2 linked regions of the Homo sapiens genome follow. The protein of the gene in region 2 interacts with the protein of the main gene of each other region in a pairwise test. Each region holds a gene or a part of one and is shown on either strand. Other genes may lie near its edges. The genes, in order: TMPRSS4 and RASGRP4.

Region 1 (10,986 bases), on a different chromosome or scaffold from region 2:
TGGCCAACATGGTGAAACCCGTCTCTACTACAAATACAAAAATTAGCTGGGCATAGTGGCAGGCACCTGTAATCCCAGCTACTCAGGAGGCTGAGGTGGAGAATCATTCGAACCCAGAGGCGGAGGCTGCAGTGAGCCGAGATCAAACCACTTCACTCTAGCCTGGGCAACAGAGTGAGACTCAGTCTCAAAAAAAAAAAAAAAAGCCTGGTTATCATTGTTTAACCTAGTCGTTCCAAAATTTGTGTAATCACTTATAGAGTGCCTATTTTGTGCCAGGTAGTGTTCTAAGCAATTGGGATCCAACTGATGAAAAAAAACAAAGATCCCTGCCCTCAGAAAGCTTAGGATCAAATGGGGTGAGAGACAGTGAACAAGCAAATAACAAAACAAGAAAATGCCAGATAGTGAAAAGTGCACTTATCTGGGAGTCCTTATCAGCTGTTTTAGCCCCTGGGGCTTCCTCCCTCTGAACCCAAAACTATAGCTTAAATGTCTGTTTAATGCCCCCCTTTCCCCCAACCACTGTGAGCTCCCTGAGGGGTCTCCAAAGACTACCATGTTCATGGCACACATGCGATGACTAAGAGATGCCTCTTAAATGAAGGAATTTAATGACTGGAAATGGAGGTGAGAGTAGGGTAGGGGTTTTAATGAAAATGGTTCAGGCCAAGCACGATGGCTCATGCCTGTAATCCCAGCATTTTGGAAAGCTGAGGTGGGAGAATCCCTTGAACCCAGGAGTTTGAGACCAGACTGGGCAACATAGTGACCCTGTCTCTGTTAAAAAACATAAAAGAAAAAATAAAAAAAGAAAATAGTTCAGAAGATCCTCTGGAAGTATGGGGGAGGAAGAAGGTCTACAGGGATTGCTAAGCAGTCCTGATGGCCAATGAGGCCGGGGTGAGGGCACACACAGATGTGCTTCCAGCATTCTGCAGGCGGTAATTCTTTCCTAGTGTAGTTCAGCAGCTTGGGGAGAGTCACAGAGAAAATAGACCTGGGATTCCTGACCTCAAGGGGCTAATCATTCTGTAGCTAGTGAGAAGGGTGGGTGGGGTGGATGAGTAATGTCATCTTTGTTGTTGTTGTTGTTTTCAGATGGAGTCTTGCTGGGTCACCCAGGCTGGAGTGCAGTGGCGCAATCTCAGCTTACTGCAACCTCTGCCTCCTGGGTTCAAGCAATTCTCCTGCCTCAGCCTCCCAAGTAGCTGGGATTACAGGCACGTGCCACCACGCCCAGCTAATTTTTGTATTCTTTTTAGTAGAGATGGGATTTCACCATGTTGGCCAGGCTGGTCTTGAATTCCTGACCTCAAATCACCTGCCCGCCTCAGCCTCCCAAAGTGCTGGGATTACAAGCGTGAGCCACCATGCCAGGCCAGTAACATCATCTTCGAATGTGAAAGAGACATTTGAAATCTCTCTGCTTGTCTGCATCCATCCATCCACCCACTCATCTATTGGTACACTTTTATCTGACTATCCTTTCCTTCCCTCCCTCTCTTCCTCCCATCATCACACATTGAGTGCCCATGATATGCAAGGCTTCCTGTAGGGCATGCAGCCTCTGGGTTTTCTCATCTCTCTAGGACCTAAACCCTATTCTTAGAACTCCCCATGATTCTTGGAGGCCCCACCTGGCAGGTGTCCACACCCCCTTCCGGGATGCCTGCACACATCATCTTCTCGGTGACTTCCCCCTGGTACGCATCGTCTGCATTGCACCGTGTGCTGTCAATGACCTGGACTGACGCCTGCAGCAGTATGTCAGACATCTTCCCTGGGAGGGTAAAAACACTCACATTCCCATCCTTGCCTTCTATCCCCCAGCCCTGGATTGCCAAACCACTTTGCTTTCTGCCTGGCGCCTTGGTGCTTGGTCCTCCAGGATGGGTTTCTCTGAAGGGTGGTCCTCCTTCCCATTACTTCTGGAAGCTGCTCCCTCATACAAGGGCATCTCCTGCCCTGTGGTCCTGCACCCAGGACTTACCTCCATTCTGCTTCGTAAAGCCCCATCCAATGATCCAGAGTGGGGTGGCTGGAGTGAGCTCCTCATCAAAGAAGGGCAGACAGATGGGCCTGACTGTGCCTGCCAGGAGCACAGAGGAAGAAGGAGATCTTTTATTCATCATAAGTGTTAATTTTCTGTAAATTATGATGCTTTATGATTATGGGGATCTTGCTGGTCTGGGAGAGACTGGGTTAGCTAATTCCTGCAGATAGTAAACAACTTGGCTTTGGGCACGCCTTTAATAGGCAAACCAGCCAACCCAAAGCCCATATCCCCAACCACTTCCTTTATCTGACTCTCAGACACCAAGCCAATATTTTCCCTGCCCTAAATCACCCCAGGGACAGATACTAGACAACCAGAGGCTGACATCTATAGCCTAGAGAATTGTCCACACTATCCAATCCTGAGCATGCTCAATCTTGCCTACCCTACCTTGGCCAGACCTGCCCATGGAAGCCACAGGTGGCTCTGGGCCATGCCTTCCCCTCACTCCTGCCTCCTGGTGGACCCAGCTGCTTCCCCGGGTGTCCCTGTGTTGGGGGGTGGGGTATGTCCCTTTCTCTCAGGAATTATAAATAATAAACTCTTCTTTCAAAGATAGCTGTGTCTGTATCTGTCACCTTGCCATACCTGATTAAAACAATTCCCAGGCACAAATCTTGAAACACACACCAGGGCTCAGGAGAGCCTGGCAGTTAAGCTCTCTGAAAGGGGTCACACCAGGGTCTCTAGAACACTTGTTCTATGGGATGCTAATAGAAGTAGCATGAAAAAAGGATTCTGTGGTCAAATAAATTTAAAAAATGTAGGTTAAACGCAATAAAACAGATTATTTTAAAAACTTCTCCTACCTTTAATAAACTAATGTGTTCCAAGAAGGGAGCTGTAGTATGAAAATGTTCCCCAAACTTATTTGACAATGGAATCCTCTCTTCTCCAAGGGGCCAGTGTCTTGTGGACCCCACAGTTGGGAATCCTGATCTAAATACATTTCAGTATAAGCACAAGGCATCCAACAGAGCTGTTCAAAGACTCTGTGGGCTGCCTCACAGGTAATGGGTTCCCTGCCCCTGGAGGAGAGCAAACAGGGGCACAATGACTCCTTGGCAGGGATACTGAGCAGGCTCTTGCGTGTTGGTCAGTGGTGGGGAATTAGCTCGATAATCTTTTTAAAAGGTCTCCTAAAACTCCAAGATTGGATGAAACTCCAGTTCTCACTCGAGGGGCTCCACATAGGGAAGACAGGCCTTGGAAGAATCTCTGGCAGGGAATGGAGTGGAGGTGTTAGCTGACAGCTTGAGGAGGCCTCATGGCATCAGTGATGTTAGGCTGACGTATTAGAGACAAATGGGCAAGCTGAGGACTTGAGAGGAGACATTATGTGCCAAGGGCGGTCAGTGAGCTAATAGCAGAGTGGGCGTGAAAACTGATGTAAGAGGCTTGAGTGGCCTTGGGCCCTGCTTCTCACCTGAGAAAGTGAGTGGGAACTGCAGCTTCATGAGGGCGATGTCATTGTCTTTGGGGTACATGGGGTTGAATTCAATGATGATGATCTTGGCCACAGCCAGGGATGGGAAGCTGCCCAGTTTGTCTGAGCCTGCCCGCACCTTCCAGTTGAACACATCGGTATGTTTCCTGGGGGTAGAGACAGCTGGGTTCAGGCCTGATCCAAGCCTGAGGAGACTTTGCCAAAGGCTGGGTCCCCAGGGCCCTAGGGATCGGGGTGCTGGATGTCACTGCCTTGGGAGGAAAGATGATGGTGAGGCAGGGATGGTGGAGAAGGGGCAGTCTTCTGGCACTTACAAGAAGTCAAATTCGAAAAAGGGATTTGACCCTTTTTCCTCAGTGAAACCTGCCCAACGAAACCTCAAGGAGGGCTGGGGAAGGGGCTCCTCTAATGCCTGAGTTCTGAGGTCCTGGCGCTCTCTCCTCCAACCTTTCTCACTGTGTTACTCATGCTGTCAGTTACATTACGTGCTTTCTTTTTCCCAATGCCAGGCACAGCTTAGTGTGCAGAGATGTTTTTCCAGGAAAGAATTTATAGCTCTCACCAGAATCTCAAAAAAAAAAAAAAAAAAAGTGGTTAAAAAACGCTGGCCTAGATCATGAGTGCCTTGAAGACAGCGGTGGGGTCTAATGAACTTGGGCGCATCATCTGGTGTTTGGTACCTGGTAGGTGCTCATTAGATATTGAATGAATGAATAAATAAAAGCCGGATGCCCTGGCTCATGCCTGTAATCCCAGCAGTTTGGGAGGCTGAGGTGGGCAGATCACTTGAGGTCAGGAGTTAGAGATCAGCCTGGCCAACATGGTGAAACCCTGTCTCTACCAAAAATACAAAAATTAGCCGGGCATGGTGGCCCATGCCTATAGTCCCAGCTACTTGGGAAGCTGAGGCAGGAGAATTGCTTGAACTCAGGAGGCGGAGGTTGCAGTGAGCCAAGATCATGCTGCTGCGCTCCAGCCTAAGCAACAGAGCAAGACTCTGTCTCAAAAAAAAAAAAAAAAAAAAAAAAAAAAAAAGTGAAGGGGGTCTGGGAGTAGCCCTTCCCTGAGGTAAGGCCAGGCTTCTCTGTGGACTGAAAGGAACCTATGCTCTTTAATTTTTTTAAAGTTTCCAGACATAATGAGGACGTGGCTATGACTCTAGACCCTGGAACAACTTCCTGGAAACAAGCAAAAAGAGAGTGAGTTCTTGGAAGTTGAGGCAGGTGGGAAGAGCTTTTGTAGCTTGAACGATATGGGGGTGGGGTGAGGACTCTGGGTATCTGCTGGTGTCCCACCAGGAAGAGGCCATGCTTGGTGACCAGCACCCTCTGCTCAGACACCCAAAAGCCTAACAAAGGGCATCATGGCCATTGTCTCATTGGGGCCACCACAACCTGGAAAACGTCTCTAGTGGGAGAGTGAAGAGAAGGACGGTGCCAGGAGACAGGACCCCAAGCTCTCTGGTCCCTGACTGGCCTTGGTCCCCAGAGACCTCCTTACAGCTGGGGTCTTACCTGAAGCAGTGGGCTGCCGTGAGGACCCAGTGGGGGTCCAGGATGCTCCCTCCACAGACGTGCTGTTTGTCGTACTGGATGCTGACCTGCCAAGGCCAAGAATCCACAGAGGCCTCCTCCACACCCACCACACGGGGGGTCTTCAGGCTCTTCCCACAGGCTGGACACAGGCAGAGGCAGGGAGGAGGCAGGAAGTCAGGCTGTTGGGGATGAGGCTGCCTCCACTCAGCACCCAAAATCTGCTCTAAGCAGGGCCCTTATGGCTGGGGCCAGAGTGGAGAGAGGACCAGCCCAATATGAGATATTCATGGGAGGTATTGAGTGTCCCAGACCATAGGCTTTCCTCAAACCTCCCTCTCCTTTTTCTTTCTTTCTTTCTTTTTTTTTTATTTTGGTTTAAGATGTGTTTAGGAGTTCAGACTATGAACATGGGTGTGTCCGTTGTGCTGGGAATCTGTGACCTTCACAAGTGATGCAGAATTACGAAAGCCCTGCCCAGGTGGCGTGTCCCCAGCCACTCCCACTGAGTAACAGTAAACAGACACCCACAAGCTATTTTGTGACTCGGAAGTGGACTGTCTCATCCAAAACTCCCCCTTCTCCAAGTCTGTTTCCCCGGCCAGGGGAGTCTCTCAATCTGACATCCTGTCTTCCTACTGACTGACCTGGCTTTCACACCCTCACCACCCCCGGAACTCCTGTAAAGCCCTCAGGTCCCCCCTCTCCACCCATGCTCTGCCTTTCCAATTCTTCTGGCAGCCACCACCACGGTTGTGGAGCCATGCACAGATGGTAGAAGGGCCATTCTAAGGGGAAGGGCTGGGCTTTTCAAATACCACCTGATTTCAAACACTGCTTTCTTCATGCCACCTTGCCCGCTCCTGCAAAGCCCTTCGGGATCTCCCTTGAGGGCAAAGTAGAGTTTCCACTCCTCCTAGCAGCCTCCTGCTGTTTCATATAAAGTCTCTGTCTAGCCAAATTGATCTGCTTGTAGTTCTCTAAAAAGTAATTCTGTTTTTGATCCAAAAAGATGCCCTTCCCACTGGTTCGTGGCCTGTTAGGAACCTGGCTGTACATTAGGAAGTGAGTGGCAGGGACAAGCGAGCATGACCACCTGAGCTTCACCTCCTGTCAGATCAGAGGTGGCGTTAGATTCTTGTAGGAGCACAACCTTATTGTGAACTGCACATGTGAGGGATCTATGCTGTACGTTCCTTATGAGACTTTAGGCTGGGTGAGGCAGCTCATGCCTGTAATCCCAGCACTTTGGGAGGCTCAGGCGGGCAGATCACCTGAGGTCAGGAGTTCGAGACTAGCCTGGCCAACATGGTGAAACGCCGTCTCTACTAAAAATACAAAAATTAGCCGGGCATGGTGGCACATGCCTATAGTCCCAGCTGGGCTGGTGACGGGTGCCTGTAATCCCAGCTATTTAGGGGGCTGAGGCAGGAGAATCGCTTGAATCCAGGAGGCGGAGGTTGCAGTGAGCCGAGATCGCAACACTTTACTCCAGGCTGAGTGACAAGAGCCAGACTTGGTCTCAAAAAAAAAAAAAAGAGAGAATCTAATGCTCTCTATCCCCCTCTTGGTTTGCGGAAAAATTGTCTTCCATGCAACCAGTCTCTTGTGCCAAAAAGGTTGGGGACCACTGAACTCTAAATCATTCATTAATCTAACCAACTTGTGTCAAGTGCTCTCTGTCCTGGGGCAGTGCTGGGTGCTGGGAGAGAGTGGTGGGCAAGACAGACAGACATGGGCTTTTCCTCCTTGAGCCTACAGATGCATTTTTCAGTGTTTAGCCTGGGCCCCCAGTCCCTGGGAATCTCCCTTTCTCTGGAATTCCCACAGGCTGTCCTGGGTATTGGCCACCCTTTCAGTGTTGTTGAGCTTAGGTCTTGGCTTATTGGTAAAACAGAGGCCCCTCAAGGGAGGACCTGTCACTTATGCTGCTTCAAGCCTTCAGGGCTACTCAGTGCAGAACCTCAGATGGTGTGACCATTCATTCATTCATTCATTGACCAGCCACCACGTGTCAGATCCCACGCACTAGGTATTGTGGGGCCGGGGTAGGGGGCATACGATAATGAATGAAACTCTCAACATCCTGCAGGAAAGCATATACACTCCTAAATTGCAGAGGCAGCGTTGTGACCTTCTTCCCTTAGGCGTTCTAATTTCTGGCTATGCTTCCAGGCCAGTCTCAGTTCTCTATGAAGCTTGTAGGATGAGCTGAGCCACATTGCTTGTTTTCTTTTCTGATCTCCTCTGTTAGAGCTAGAAGGGTCCCTAAAGATCCTTGATGGGCAGTTGGACTAAACAACTTCTTGGGAAAATGAACTTCAGGGAGGTCAGGTGAATGACTCGAGGCCACACTGGAAATGAACAGGACTGGTGCCCAGGTCTTCTGACCCCCGGCCAGCTCTCTCTGCAGCATGTCAACTGTGACTGCTACTCAGTTTGGCATTTTCCACATGTTGTCTTGCATCTCTCTCTTACTTAGTCATCAGCTACCAAGGATAGTGGCCAATTATTTCACTCATCTGGTACTTTCTACTTCTAGCCAGCAACTGACAGAGTGAGACATATTCTAACTGTTCAATGAATAGTTGCTCAAATAATGAATGTGGGTAATCTGATCTTGGATACCTGAGCTGATTGTGACAAAGAAGGCTATGTGGGCCCGGACCAGGGATGGGAGGCAGTGGAGGCCCCGTCCTGCCCTTTTCGGTCTTCCTAACACTCTCTCCCAGGTCTCCACTTAGGTCATGGAGCCATGCACAGATGGTAGAAGGGGGAAACTGGGGCTTGGAAAGACCCAGAAAAAGAATGTGACCTGCCCAAGGCCACCAACAACTCGAGGGGGCATTGACCGACAAGCCCAAGGGCTGTAGACCAAGGCAGAATGAAACTTGGAGTCCCAGAAATTTAGGAGTGAAGATGAAGGTCTTCCTCCCTGCTCATTGCTGGCCCAGGCCCCAAACCCTCAGAGATTGGGGGTACTCACCAAGACAGTGCAGGGAGACCAGGGAGCCTGAGAGACAGGGCCTGGAAGACAGACACAGCGCCCTGTGATTTAAGCTTCTTCCTCAGCTGGGAGGCAGGGACTCAGGCCTCCCGAAGCTGTTAATTCAAGTCCCCTCCCAATACCTCGGGAATGTGGAAGCTGCACAGTGGGGAACATTTGGAGACTGCATTGACATCCATTGCATTTCCTGCATTGACACTTCCGTTTGATTGGATTCAACACCCCCACTGCTGAGTACCTACTGTGTGCTGGGCCCTGCCTGCTTCAAAGCCCAGCCTGGGCTCCTGGGACCCAAGAGGGAAGAGGACAGAGCCCGGAACAGAGTCTGTGACACTGTGGGCTTTCCAAATGGAAGAATGGGATTTTGATAGAATTTTAGGTAAAGGATCATTCTGCTACCAGCCCTGTCCTTTTCAAGATTTATTTTCGGTGAATAAGCGGCCCTCAGCAACGTCCCTGAATGCTAGGAAGCCAGCCTCCTCTCTGAGCCACTTTGCCACAGTGTGACAGATTTCATCTGGATGCTCTGCTCTAACACAGGGTGGCGAGGCTCAGGAACAGGCCACCCACAAGGGCCATGGAGCCTCTTCCCTGGAGCATCAAGAAGGTGGGGAGCTCTGGCTGGGTAAGTGGTAGGGAAGGACAAAGTGACTTTGGAATCTTGCCTATTGGGCAATTTATTAGAAAACCTACAGCAGTAGCAAAAACTATTTACTATCCAGATTGATGGAAAGGTCACATTATCCATCCCTCTGGCTCTGAGTAGGACAACACACTTTGTCCAGCTGTCCATTGTATTAAAAACAAGTCAACACAGAAAACCTCTCCAAAATGTGAGTCTATAGCTCTTGGCATTGAATGATCCATCTGGCTAGGAGTTCTTCCTGATGTCTGCTTACATTCCCCTGGCTGCTTGGGGTTCCAGGTGAGCTGGTTGCAACCTGAAGAGCAGCGTCCATGTGGGGGCCTTCTGTAGGCCAGAAGGTGTCCCCTCACTTACCCACTTGAGTTCCGCATGCGAAGCTCCTGGCTGTTTTCTGTGATTTCAACAACATCCAGATCCTGGTCTGGGCCAATCTCCACAGCTCTGAAAGTGGGTTTGCTGCTCACATCAAGAGGGAGAGAGAGTTGTGAGCTGGGGCAGGGGGTTAGAACAAGATGGTAGAGTTGGCCCCCACTTTCAGGAGAAAGAGTGGCAGAGAATGCTTGGTGGGGAGTGGCCAGGGAGTGGAGATGGTCTTAGTCAGTGAAGATGGGGCCTGCTTTGCTATACAATAAAGAACCGACCCTTGGCATCCCAGGACTCAACCCTCAGTGCATTGCTGATGTAACTTGCTTTCTTGGGTGGGGAATCCAAATCCAGAACCCAGAGCCCTGGAGAAATGTTAGGGGTCTCCTTTCCATATTCCCAGCTCTGTCCCTATTTCAAATATCCCAGCAATGTCTTCTGGTTCACAGCAGGGAAACAAAGAGGCATAGGGGCTCAGGTTAGCTCCCTTCTCACCTGGGAGGGAGTTGGAATGTGGATATTTCGTTCTCCAAACAAAGCATCTGGTCTGACTTTGATAGCGGGGGTATGTTTTTGGCCCCCTTAGAGATATTTAATAGAACAGGACTAGATCTGTCTTCATATGAATCCAGACAAACGTTTCTCTCAACTGGACCACTCTCCCTCTTTCTCCCTGCTAATCCATGCTTGCTACTTTCAAACCTTGGGTTGAAGTTTTTCCTCCTCCAGGAAGCCTTCCTTGATTAATTCCATCTCTCTGATTGTTCCTTTACTGAATCTGCCTCTTCTAAATCTTTTCCTTCCATCCCTAACTATGCTAGTAATGTTAGTAGAAGCTCTCCATGGAGGGCTGAGTCATTGGCAATACTGGTGGATTGGCACATTCTCAGGCAGGAATGCTGGCACTTCCTGGAAGGACCCAAGTCTCAGACCTGGGAGGACTAGAGTGCATTTTAAGAGTCCTCATGATCTAGGTTCTGTCCCTGGCTCTGGCACTAGTTTGATGTGTGGCCTTGGGCAGGTCATATTCTTTTTCTGGGTCTCTCCAAGCCTCAGTTTCCCCCTCTATAAAAAGATGCACGGGGCTGGGTGCAGTGGCTCACGCCTGTAATCCCAGCACTTTGGGAGGCCGAGGTGGGTGGATCACCTGAGGTCAGGAGTTCAAGACCAGCCTGGCCAACATGGTGAAACTCGGTCTCTACAAAAATATAAAAATTAGCTGGGCATGATGGTGCGTGCCTGTAATCCCAGCTACTTGGGAGGCTGAGGCGAAAGAATCACTTGAACCTGGGAGGTGGAGGTTGCAGTAAGCAGAGATGGTGCCATTGCACTCCAGCCTGGGTGACAGAGTGAGACTCTGTCAAAAAAAAAAAAAAAAGATGCGTGGACTAGATGATCCCTAGGGTCTCCCACATCTTGAAATGCCTATGGTTCTAGGACAAGAAGGGCCTCCGATCTAGAGAGAGGAAAGAAAGTAGAGAAGTCTGAGACCTAGAAGGACGGAATATGGTGGAAATGGACATTCCCAGGAAAGTTAACTTCTGTTCACCAATTCCATCCCAATGAATGATTCTGATGAACTTTGATTTTGTGAAGCACAAGACTCAGGTGGTTTGGTGCCTTACTGAGCTCCAAAAGGACAGAAATTCCAGGAGCCTATCATCTTAAGAACCCCTGGAGACACCCAGGTTTCATAATCAAGGCTCAGCCTGCTGTGCCAGGAACGGCTGATGCAGCAGTTGACTGGACTACAGTGGGGAGGCAGGGCTGGCTGCAGCGAGGCTGGGCTCCGTGGCTGCAGGAAGAGGGGAGAATAGCAGGTGCTGGGCATGAGTTCCTCACTCTCCTTGAAATGAAGGTGGTGGGGTGTGCTTTCTAGAGGGTAATGGAAGTTGCCCCCTATGGAAAGTAGAGAGCAGCAGAAGCCCGTTG
Region 2 (10,986 bases):
AAACTCCTCAGGCAATCCGCCTACCTCAGCCTCCCAAAGTGCTAGGATTAGAGGCATGAGCCACTGCGCCCGGCTAGACACTGTCTTAAAGACATTCTTTGAACGATGTCATTGGCTGTCTCTCCTCAACCACCCTCTGAAGTGGGTCCTTTTATTTTATTTTATTTTTATTTATTTATTTATTTTGAGAAGGAGTTTCGCTCTTCTTGCCCAGGCTGGGGTGCAATGGCGCAATGGCGCAATCTCAGCTCACTGCAACCTCCACCTCCCGGGTTCAAGCAATTCTCCTGCCTCAGCCTCCCAAGTAGCTGGGATTACAGGCACGCACCACCACTCCTGGCTAATTTTGTATTTTTAGTAGAGACGGGGTTTCTCCATGTTGGTCAGGCTGGTCTCGAACTCCTGACCTCAGGTGATCTGCCCACCTCAGCGTCCCAAAGTGTTGGGATCACAGGCGTGAGCCACTGCGCCCGGCTGGGTCCTTTTATTATTCCCATTTTGTGGATAAGGAAACTGAGGCTTAAGGGTTCAGTGACTTGCCCAAGATCACGCAGCTAGAAAAAAACCTAGAAGTTCTGGCTTCAAAACCCATGCACTCCAGCACTTTTCTATCCTGGTCCTGGAGACACTCACACACCCAGGACCCTATATCTCAGTACCCTTGGAAGCCCAGCCTGGGCGGGGCCAGGGGGGCTCACCGTGAGCAGGTGCAGCAGATCCTCATTGGCGCTGCAGGGTGGATGCTGCCCTTGGAGGGCCACCAGCTCCTGCAGCCGCAGGTAGAGGTTGTTCAGCTTGGGTAGGTGCAGGCGGCCGTCAGGCAACCTGTCGGGCTGTGCCTCATGCAGGGACACCAGGTCCTTGAGGTGCACGCCCAGTACAGGCAGCCGGAAACCCGCGCAGCCAGCCCAGGTGCGGCGGTAGCGGGCGTAGTTGTTGTGGGAGGCAAGGAGCTCAGTGAGCTCCAGGAGGGCCTGGGGAGGAGGGACATGGGATTGGGGCGTTATCAGGACAGTCCCATCCCCTGAGCAGCCTCCTGTGTGGGCTCTAGGCCTTCAGGGACCCAGTGGCATTGTGGAAACCTCTGGAGCCCTTCCATATCCCATGCCGGTCTCAGCATCTCCCCCAAACTGCTCTTCCTCTTGGGTCCCCATCTCAGAGAAGTTCCACAATCCCCCATTCTTTGGCTAAAATGATTTCTTTTATCTTTCTTTCTTTTTGATTTTTTTTTTTTTTTTTTTGAGATGGAGTTTTGCTGTCTTGCCCAGGCTAGAGTGCAGTGGCGTGATCTCGGCTTACTGCCACCTCCACCTCCTGGGTTCAAGCGATTCTCCTGCCTCAGCCTCCCAAGAAGCTGGGATTACAGGCATTGAGCCACCACGCCAGGCTAATTTTGTATTTTTAGTAGAGACAGGGTTTTACCATGTTGGCCAGGCTGGTCTCAAACTCCTCACCTCAGGTGATCTGCCTGCCTCGGCCTCCCAAAGTGTTGGGATTACAGGCGTTAGCCATCAAGACCGGCCTTTTTATTTATTTATTTTTTAGGCTAGGGTCTCACTCTGTCACCCAGGCTGGAGTACAGTGTCATGATCACAGCTCATTGCAGCCTTAAACTCCTGAGCTTGATGGCTGGGCACGGTGGCTCACACCTGTAATCCCAGCATTTTGAGAGGCCGAGGCAGGCGGATCATCTGAGGTCAGGAGTTCGAGAACAGCCTGGGCAACATGGTAAAAACCTGTCTCTACTAAAAATACAAAAATTAACTGGGTCTGGTGGTGCAGGCCTGTAATCCCAGCTACTCGGGAGTCTGAGGCAGGCGAATCGCTTGAACCTGGGAGGTGGAGGCTTCAGTGAGCCAAGATTTCGACACTGTACTCCAGCCTGGGAGATAGAGTGAGACTCTGTCTCAAAAAACAACAATGAAAAGGCTGAGGGGGAGGCTCCAGCAGTCCTCCCCCTCAGCCTCCCAAGTAGCTGGGACTACAGGCATGGGCCACCATCCCTGGCTAATTTATTTTTAAATTTTTTTTCAGCCAGGCGCGGAGGCTCACACCTGTAATCCCAGCACTTTTGGAGGCCAAGGTGGGTGGATCGCCTTAGGTCAGGAGTTTGAGACCAGCCTGGCCAACATGGTAAAACCCTGTCTCTACTAAAAATACAAAATTAGCAGGGCATGGTGGTGCACCCCTGTAATCCCAGCTATTCGGGAGGCTGGGGCAGGAGAATTACCTGAATCCGGGAGGCAGAGGTTGCAGTGAGCCGAGATTGCACCACTGCACTCCAGCCTGGGCGACAAGAGCGAGACTCTGTCTCAAAAAAAAAAAAAAAAAAAAAAAAAAATTTCTGGAGATGGGGTCTCGCTATGTTGCCCAGGCTGGTCTGAAACACCTGGGCTAAAGTGATCCTCCAATCTTGGCCTCCCAAAACGCTGGGATTACAAGTGTGAGCCACACTGTACCCAGCCTATAATTATTTCTTAAAAACCCAGATTTTATCAAGGGTGTGTCATCACTCTCAAAACTTCCCTAGCTTAGCCCATCTTACAAGGCGCTATAGGATCTTCCCAGGGCATCTTCGGCTTAATTTCCTGCCACTTTCTGACCTCAGCCAGTCCTCCCCATGGGGACTGCAAAGTTCTCTGCTAGCCTGTCTCCCATCTGTCTCCCTCACAGTCCAGCTCCGGACCAGACACACTGAAAGCAGAGAGGGATCAGCACCATGAGTGGATGGATGACAGGGAGGAGGAATGCTGGCAGAGCCTGGGGGTCTGGGATTTGGAGGAGCAAGGACTTCATGTGGTACCAGGACCCCTGGGCAGGAATGGACAGGGCTTGGGGAATTAGGTGTGGGGGCTCAAGACAGCTGACCACTTGGAGCTTTGGGGAGGGTAGTGGGATTCACCTTGGTGCTGTCAGGGCTCAGGTGGGCATGGGAGTCCTTGAGTCTGGAGATGGCACTGTGACACAGGCCCCCTGTGACTGCCATCAGCGTGTTGAAATTCTGCAGCTGGTGGAGCCTCTAGGAAGAGAAGCATGCACACAGGGCCGTCACGGGAGGGAGGGCAAGTCAGGAGTTCAGATGACAGCATCCCAGTTGAGGTGGGGTCCCAGGCATGTGTGGACCAATGTGGGGATCAGACAGGTGAGAGAAGGCGGGTGTGTGCGGCAAGAGTGGGACATGCCATGTGTGGGCCTCACAGGGGTGTCAGATGGCTATCTGAGCCGGGAGGGTCAAGCAAGTGATTGACTGATACGAGGTTAGAAAATCTGGGGAGACAGGAAGTACGAGAAGTTGGGCGGATTTGGGGAATAGACAGGTGTGTGTCAGGTGGAGGAGGCTTCAGACATGTCAGGGTGTCAGCCATCTGGGGGTCTGACTGCTCTGAGAGTCACACAGGTGCGGGGAGGCAAGAAGGTGCAGGCTCTGGGCAGGAGCTGGGAGCCAGGCAGAGGTGAATAGGGCCAGAGAGATATGGAGGAGTCAGACAGATGCTAGACAGGTGTGGGGCCACCAGGGCAGCTGGGGAATTCCCTTGCCCTCCTTTTGACAAATTTCGGCAGAGGTTGCTGTGGAGAGAGTGGGGCCAGGGAGGAATGGAAAATGCTCAGACTAAGGACACCCCAGGCGGACGTCGAGACCCCCAGGTCTCAGGGGCCCTGCAGGAGTAAGCAAGCCAGGGAAGACACCAGAGGAAGGGCGTGGTCTGCGTGGAAATACGCAAGGGGGCGCGGCCACAGCGGGGCCGTAGGGCTTCCCTTTTCCCCAGAAGGGCGAGAAGGTGTCCGGAAAGGAGGGGGAAGGGAGGGGAAGAGAAGGGCGTAACACAATGGGGCGGGGCGGGGAGAGCCCGGACGCAATGGGGAGCGATGCACAATCCCGAAGCGACCGCTGGGGCCTGGGGACTGGGGATTGAAGCCTCGGGCTTCCATGCCCCACAAAGGTGGGGGCATGGAAGAGACACTCTCATTGACCTGGGGATAGAATATTCGGGCATAGGGCTTGGGAGCCTGTCACGTCTAGGGCCAAGGGGTGGGGCCACGGTGGGTGCGACGCGGTGACATCAAGGCCAAAGAAGAAGTTACGGTCCTTGGTTGGAATGCCCAGGCTGTGGCCTCGGGGGCGGGGCCGGGAGATGCGTGACGTCACCGCCGGGATGACCCTGTGGGGTCGAGGGTCTGGAAGGGGAAGGACCAGGTGGCTGCGTGCAGTGGAGTTCGCAGCCCCAAGGGGCGGGCCTCACCTGTGCCACGTGAATGAACTTGTCCAGCACCTGTGCACGCTGTAGGGGCCCGGGACGGCTCAGCACCATCACCTGCACCCAGCGGGACACGCTGTTGCTGAGACCTACGGAGCCCTCCAGGGCCGGGCAGCCTCGTACTGAGCCCTGCAAAACGTAGCTCCGCAGGTCCTGGGGCTGGGAGCGAGGTGGGTGTCAAGGTGGGCCGTGGCGCTCAGGCCCTGCCCTTCCATGGCATCCAACTAGCAGTCACGATCTCTGATGTCCTAGCCTGGTCTAGCCGGAGTGACCTTTGTCATCTGTCCCCCAACCCTCAGGCTGCTACATGTCCTTAACGTCACCATGCTCCTCTCCCATCTGAGGAGGCATGTTTCAATATAGCCAGGCACTATATTTGACAAGTAATCATATTAAATAATTTAATCCTCATAACTCTATGAGGTGAGTATCATTCCATTTTAGAGGTGAGACAGTTGAGGCACATAGAGGATAGGTAATTTGCCCAGGGTCACACAGGTGTGAGTCAGGGTGGGCGTCTATATGCTCTTAACTGTACACCTGACTGGTATACAGTAAGCAAAGGGAAGGCTGGGGAAGATGAATTGAAATCAACCTCTATCTGTTCTGCCCAAGGAGTGTTCATTTCATACCCACATCCACTACACTGAGTATATTTGCATACACACTCACACACACAACACACACATACAATCGGGACAGTTTCACATGAAGGAAACAGATCCCCACCTTCCCTTGAAATGATGATGTCCAGATGGCAAAAGCTAATGCATATATATGTTGAAGCACATGAAACTGATCCTTGGGTAGGTAATATATGACAATTTCAAATGGTTCAAGCAGATAGCATTTACCCTGGACCAGGCACTGTTCCTGCAAGGCAGGAACTGTGCATATCCCCTTTTTACAGATGAGGAAACTGAGGCACCATGAATTTAAATGCTTGTTGAATAAATGATAAAATATTTTGAGCACTTACTAAGTGCCAGTCGCTGCAATAAGCCTTTTATTTATTTATTTTACTTTTTTGTTGTTGTTGTTTTTCGAGACAGAATCTCGCTCTGTCGCCCAGGCTGGAGTGCAGTGGTGTGATCTCAGCTCACTGTAATCTCCGCCTCCTGAGGTTCAAGTGATTCTCCTGCCTCACCCTCCCAAGTAGCTGGGATTACAGGCATGCACCACCACACCTGGATAATTTTTGTATTTTTAGTAGAGATGGGGTTTCACCATGTTGGCCAGGCTGGTCTCAAACTCCTGACCTCAGGCGATCTGCCTGCCTTGGCCTCTTTAACTCATTTTCCTGGACCTTCTAGCATACAGGTTTGAGTTTAAGACTTTGAGATCTCTGCCGAATGACCATGCAGGTGTCCTCTCAGTCCTACCTTCCCCCAGCCAATCCCTCCCCTACCCCAGTGTCTCCCCTGCTTGGGACGGGGATGGGAGGGGGTCCTCACCGTGATAGCCTGGAAGGACCGGAACTCCAGGTAGGTGAGGTGCTGAGCCAGCTCCCCCGTCTCCAAGTGGTCGAAAAGCAAGGACACTTTGCGCTTTTTGCCCAGGCCTGGGCTGCTCATTGGGAGTGGGGGGCCAGGGCCACCAGGGCTCAGGCTGGGGGCCAAGAGGGGCAGGGTATTGGAGTGGCTCACAGTTGAGGGCTTGGGGATATAGAGGGAGATGGCAGAATGGCGATGGGGCAGGGAAGAGGGGAGCACAGGGCTGACTCACAGGTCAGAAGAGTCTCCCAGTCTTCTCTGGGCTGAGTTGCCCTCCCGGGCCACGGTGGCCCAGAAACGACCTATGACTTCTTCTAGCTGGGGATCCTGGTGCATCACCTCAGGGTGTCGCATCAGCCAGTACCTGAGAGTGGTTTGGAGATGGTGAGATGAGGCCGGGGGTGGCGAAGGTCTCTACAAGGGGTATTTTGGGCTGAGGAATTTCTAGGTGCTGAGCTAGGGGGTCTCTAAATGTGTGTGGGGGTCCCTGGAGGGTTGGGGTTTGGAGGGGCACCAGGCTTGGAGAATCTCTGGAGTAGGATGGGGGTCTCTTAACAGAGACTGGGGGGATCTGTGGGAAACAGACCGGGGAGTCACTTGGAAGTGGGATTATTGGGAAGCAAGATCGTGGAGCGTCCTAGGAACTAGACTGGGGGCTTCCGGGGGTGAAATTTTTGGAGGGACAGAATGAGGGGGTCTTATGGGCTAGGCTGGGGTCTGTGGGAGGTAGAGATTTTGGGGATCAGAGTTGGAGGTCTCTGGGCACCAGCTAGGAGGGTCTATGGGATCTGGTTGGTGAGGGGGGTCTCTAGGAAGTGGGGGTTCTAAGGAACGGAACTAAGAGGGTCTTAGGAACCAAGCTACAGGTGTCTCAGAAGTGGGATTTTGGCCTGTGGGGCTGGTTGGGTCTGTGGGAACTGGCCTGGGGATTCTCTGAGGAATGTTTTTTGAGGGGGAAGCAGGATGGAAGTCGTGGGTCCTGAGAGTGGGGATCTCGGCCCAGCCCTACCTGACCAGGTGACAGATCTGCAGCCGTCTCAGCTCCTGGGTGTCCCCTGTGGCCTTCTGGTATTTGAGTTCTGGTCAAGGCTCTGTTTTCCAGGATCCATGACCTGCCTGCTCCCCATTCCCATTGCCCAGGTTCTCACGACTCTGCCCTCTGCCCTCCACCCATAGCTCACAGTCCTGGAGGATATGAGGTCAGCAGGCGGGCAGCCAGGTCGGCGGACGGCAGCACCCAGCTGTGCATGGCCAGCACCATGTTGAGCATGTGGTCCTCGTGGCACAGGCTGCCAGCTGAATCTGGGGTGGAAGGAGGGGTACTCTGTGACAGAATGGCCCTCAAGCAATGCAGAGCGTAGCTCCAGATCCTGCCGGACCACCTGGTTCAAAGACCAGCTCTAACGGTGATCCCCAGCATGACCTTGGACAGGCAACCTAACCTCCTGTGCCTCAGTTTCCTTATCTGTATTGTGCATGGGGCAGCATCACCCCTGGCAAGTCTTGCTGAAGATTGAAATAGCACCAGACTGGCCGGGCACAGTGGCTCACACCTGTAATCCCAGCACTTTGGGAGGCTGAATCGGGCGGATCATATGAGGCCAGGAGTTCGGGACAAGTCTGGCCAACATGGTGAAACACCGTTTCTACTAAAAACACAAAAATTAGCTGGGCCTGGTGGCATGTGCCTGTAATCCTAGCTACTCGGGAAGCTGAGGCAGGAGAATCTCTTGAACCCAGGAGGTGGGGGTTGCAGTGAGCTGAGATCAGGCCACTGCACTCCAGCCTGGGTAACAGAGCGAGACTCTGTCTCAAAAGAAAAAGAAAAGAAAAGAAAAAAGATTTATATAAATATATATAATATACACATATATTATATATATATATAAATGTATATATTTCCATTTCAGGAAAGAAGAAATGCAGGTGTTTCTGTTATCTCTAATGTAGTGATTGAGTTTCATTCCACCCAGCCCTGTTCTCATTTTACCTCCAAAAACTGAGGTGGAGAGAAGCGAGTGCTGAGCCCGAGGTTAGGGCCAGGGAGGCTGCTGGGGAGAGGACACTTACCGAAGGACTGGATGCATTTCTCCAGCAGCTCATCTTCGCTGCAGCCGCCCTCACTCAGCAGGCCCAGGTTCATGGAAGCCATGACCTTGCTGATTTCCCGAGGGCTGGGGCATGTCTTGTGGCGGCGCACTTGGCGGGGCCGGCCTCGCCCTCCTATTTTTCCGGTGCATTCCTGGTGGGACTTCCTGTGGGCACAGCCCCCAAGGAGTCATGGGAGCACCTTCTTTCGGACAGACCCTAGAATTCCTTTTGACTCTAATGCCCCAAGGCACCACGGGAGAGGCTTCCTAAAGGCAAAGCCCCAGGGTTACCCCTGACCTACCAGGGACTCTAGAGAGAATCCCCAGGAATATTCCAGATCCCTGGGGGAATCATGGGAGCCCTCTCCCACAAGCAAACTCCCAGGGATATTCCTGCTCCCTTCAGGGAATCAGAGAGGAAGATCCTCAAGACCAGGGGTCCCCAGCCCCTGGGACACAGACAGGTACCAGTCCGTGGCCTGTTAGGAACCAGCGGGCAAGCAAGCACCCCCGCCTGAGCTCCACCTCCTGTCAGATCAGCTGGGGCATTAGACTCTCTTAGGAGCATGAACCCTATTGTGAACTTCACATGCGAGGGATCTAGGCTGCGTGCTGTTTATGATGCCTGATGATCTAGGCTGCGTGCTGTTTATGATGCCTGATGCCTAATGCCTGATGATCTGTCACTGTCTCTCATCACCCCCAGATGGGAGCATCCAGTTGCAGGAAAACAAGCTCAGGGCTCCCACTGATTCTCCATTATGGTGAGCTGCGTAACTATTTCATTATATATTACAATGTAATAATAATAAAAATAAAGCACAGGATACATGTAATTAACTTGAATCATCCCCACACCATCCCCACCCCCTTCCACAAAACTGGTCCCTGATGCCAAAAAGCCTGGGGACCGCCGCTCAGGACTGCTCTGAATCTCCCAGGGAATCACAGTAGAAGACCCCTGGGACCACTCAAGACCCCTCAGGGAATCATAAGAACTCCTTCCCCAGGCATTGCCCCCAACTTCCTCTTGACTGCTTCCAGGGCATCCTGGAAGAGACTTCCTTTTGGCAGATCCCAGGATTACTCCTGGCCTACCAGGGACTCGGGAGAAGACCCCTGGAATCTCTTCTGTCCTCCCCAGGCAGAGGCATGGGAGGACCTGCCTTCAGGAATTGCCTCCTCAGGGCTCCCGTTTGGTCTCTAACACCCTCCCCTCCTTCCTCCCACAGCCCTCAAGAGAGCAAGGCTCTTGGACCAGTGTGATGGCTCACGCCTGTAATCCCAAAGCTTTGGGAGGCCAAGGTGGGTGGATCACTTGAGGCCAGGAGTTCGAGACCACCCCGGCCAACATGGTGAAACCCCCATCGCTACTAAAAATGCAAAAATTGGTCAGGCGTGATGGCGGGCGCCTGTAATCCCAGCTACTCAGGAGGCTGAGGCAGGAGGGTCGCTTGAACCCAGGAGGTGGAGGCTGCAGTGAGCCGGAACTGCATCACTGTGCTCCAACCTGGGTGACAGAGTGATTTCTGTTTCAAAAATAATAATAAAAAAATTAAAAAGAGAGGCCAGTCACAGTGGCTCACGCCTGTAGTCCCAGCACTTTGGGAGGCTGAGGTGGGTGGATCACTTGAGGTCAGGAGTTCGAGACCAGCCTGGCCAACATGGTGAAACCCCATCTCTATTAAAAATACAAAAATTAGCCAGGCGTGGTGGTGGGCTCCTGTAATCCCAGCTACTCAGGAGGCTGAGGCAGAAGACTTGCTTGAACCCAGGAGGCGGAGGTTGCAGTGAGCCGAGATCGTGCCACTGCACTCCAGCCTGGGCAACAGAGCGAGTCTTAGTCTCAAAATAATAATAATAATAATAGTAATAATAGTAATAATAATTCTCCCTCTGCCTGGTGCCTCCCAGAGGCTGCTGTTCCTGATAGGGGAAGAGGGTAATGGAGAGACAAGGATGGTGGGAGCAGGGAGGCTGCTGAATCCAAGCTTCAGACGAAAGTAGAATCCAGAAATTTTTGCCAGCTGTTGTGACTTCGTGTTAGTCACTTAATTTCTCTGGGGCTCAATTTCCTCGAAGGAAAAATGAGGATAGTCCTTGGACCTTCTCCAGGGATTTCTTTTTTCTTTCTTTCTTTCTTTTTTTGGAGACAGGGTCTCACTCTGTCACCCAGGCTGGAGTGCAGTGGTGCGATCTCAGCTCACTGCAACCTCCACCTCCCGGGTTCAAGCAATTCTCCTGCCTCAGCCTCCCAAGTAGTTGGGACTACAGGCACGTGCCACCACGCCGAGCTAATTTTTGTATTTTTAGTAGAAATGGGGTTTCACCATGTTGGCCAGGCTGGTTTCAAACTCCTGGGCCCAACTGATCCTCCCACCTTTGCCTCTGAAAGTGCTGGGATTACAGGTGTGAGCCATCACGCCAGGCTCCCACCTCTACCCTTTTTCAGACAGGGTCTTGCTCTGTCTCCCAGGCTGGAGCACAGTTGTGCAATCAAAGCTCATTGTAACCTTGAACTCCTGGACTCGAGTGATCCTCCTGCCTTAGTCTCCCAGGTAGCTGGGACTACAGGTGTGCACGACCATACCCAGCTAATTTTGTGTGTGTGTTTGGGTGTGTGTCAATGGGGGGGGGGGTCTCACTATATTTCTCAGGCTGGTCTAGAACTCCTGGCTTCAAGTTCTCCTTGTCTTATCCTCCCAAAGTGCTGGGATTAGAGGCATGAGCCATCGTTACTAGAAGGGACATTTTAAAGTATTATATATGTCCTAGGCTAAGGAAGGAGCATTCTAACTAAGTCAGCATTTCCCTAAGTGTGGGCACCCAGCTAGTACCAAAAGCATCACCTGGGAACTGGATATCAATACAGATTCTCAGGTCCCAACCCAGACCTACAAAATCAAACACTTTAAGGCTAAGGGTGGTGGCTCATGCCTCTAATCCCAGCACTTTGGGAGGCCGAGGTGGGTGGATCACGAGGTCAAGAGATCGAGACCATCCTGCCCAACATGGTGAAACCCCATCTCTACTAAAAATACAAAAAAGTAGCTGGGTGTGGTGGTGCACACCTGTAGTCCCAGCTACTTGGGAGGCTGAGGCAGGATGATCGCTTGAACCCGGGAGGCAGAGGTTGCAGTGAGCCAA

Evidence for each region.
Region 1: the proteins of RASGRP4 (region 2) and TMPRSS4 interact in binary tests that used the Homo sapiens proteins (3 or more experiments, as listed by UniProt).

What each region holds. Positions count from the first base shown.
Region 1 is NC_000011.10:118,105,935-118,116,920, reverse strand, and holds part of TMPRSS4 (transmembrane protease serine 4), read right to left. Parts: intron 9,148-10,986; coding exon 9,046-9,147; intron 8,066-9,045; coding exon 8,025-8,065; intron 6,870-8,024; coding exon of another isoform or gene 6,688-6,869; exon of another isoform or gene 6,524-6,687; intron 5,181-6,523; coding exon 5,021-5,180; intron 3,653-5,020; coding exon 3,486-3,652; intron 2,999-3,485; coding exon of another isoform or gene 2,871-2,998; exon of another isoform or gene 2,856-2,870; intron 2,093-2,855; coding exon 1,994-2,092; intron 1,784-1,993; coding exon 1,641-1,783; intron 1-1,640. UniProt on the Homo sapiens protein: Plasma membrane-anchored serine protease that directly induces processing of pro-uPA/PLAU into the active form through proteolytic activity.
Region 2 is NC_000019.10:38,414,150-38,425,135, forward strand, and holds part of RASGRP4 (RAS guanyl-releasing protein 4), read right to left. Parts: intron 8,005-10,986; coding exon 7,820-8,004; intron 7,052-7,819; coding exon 6,946-7,051; intron 6,822-6,945; coding exon 6,759-6,821; intron 6,114-6,758; coding exon 5,982-6,113; intron 5,865-5,981; coding exon 5,711-5,864; intron 4,416-5,710; coding exon 4,242-4,415; intron 3,020-4,241; coding exon 2,903-3,019; intron 975-2,902; coding exon 699-974; intron 1-698.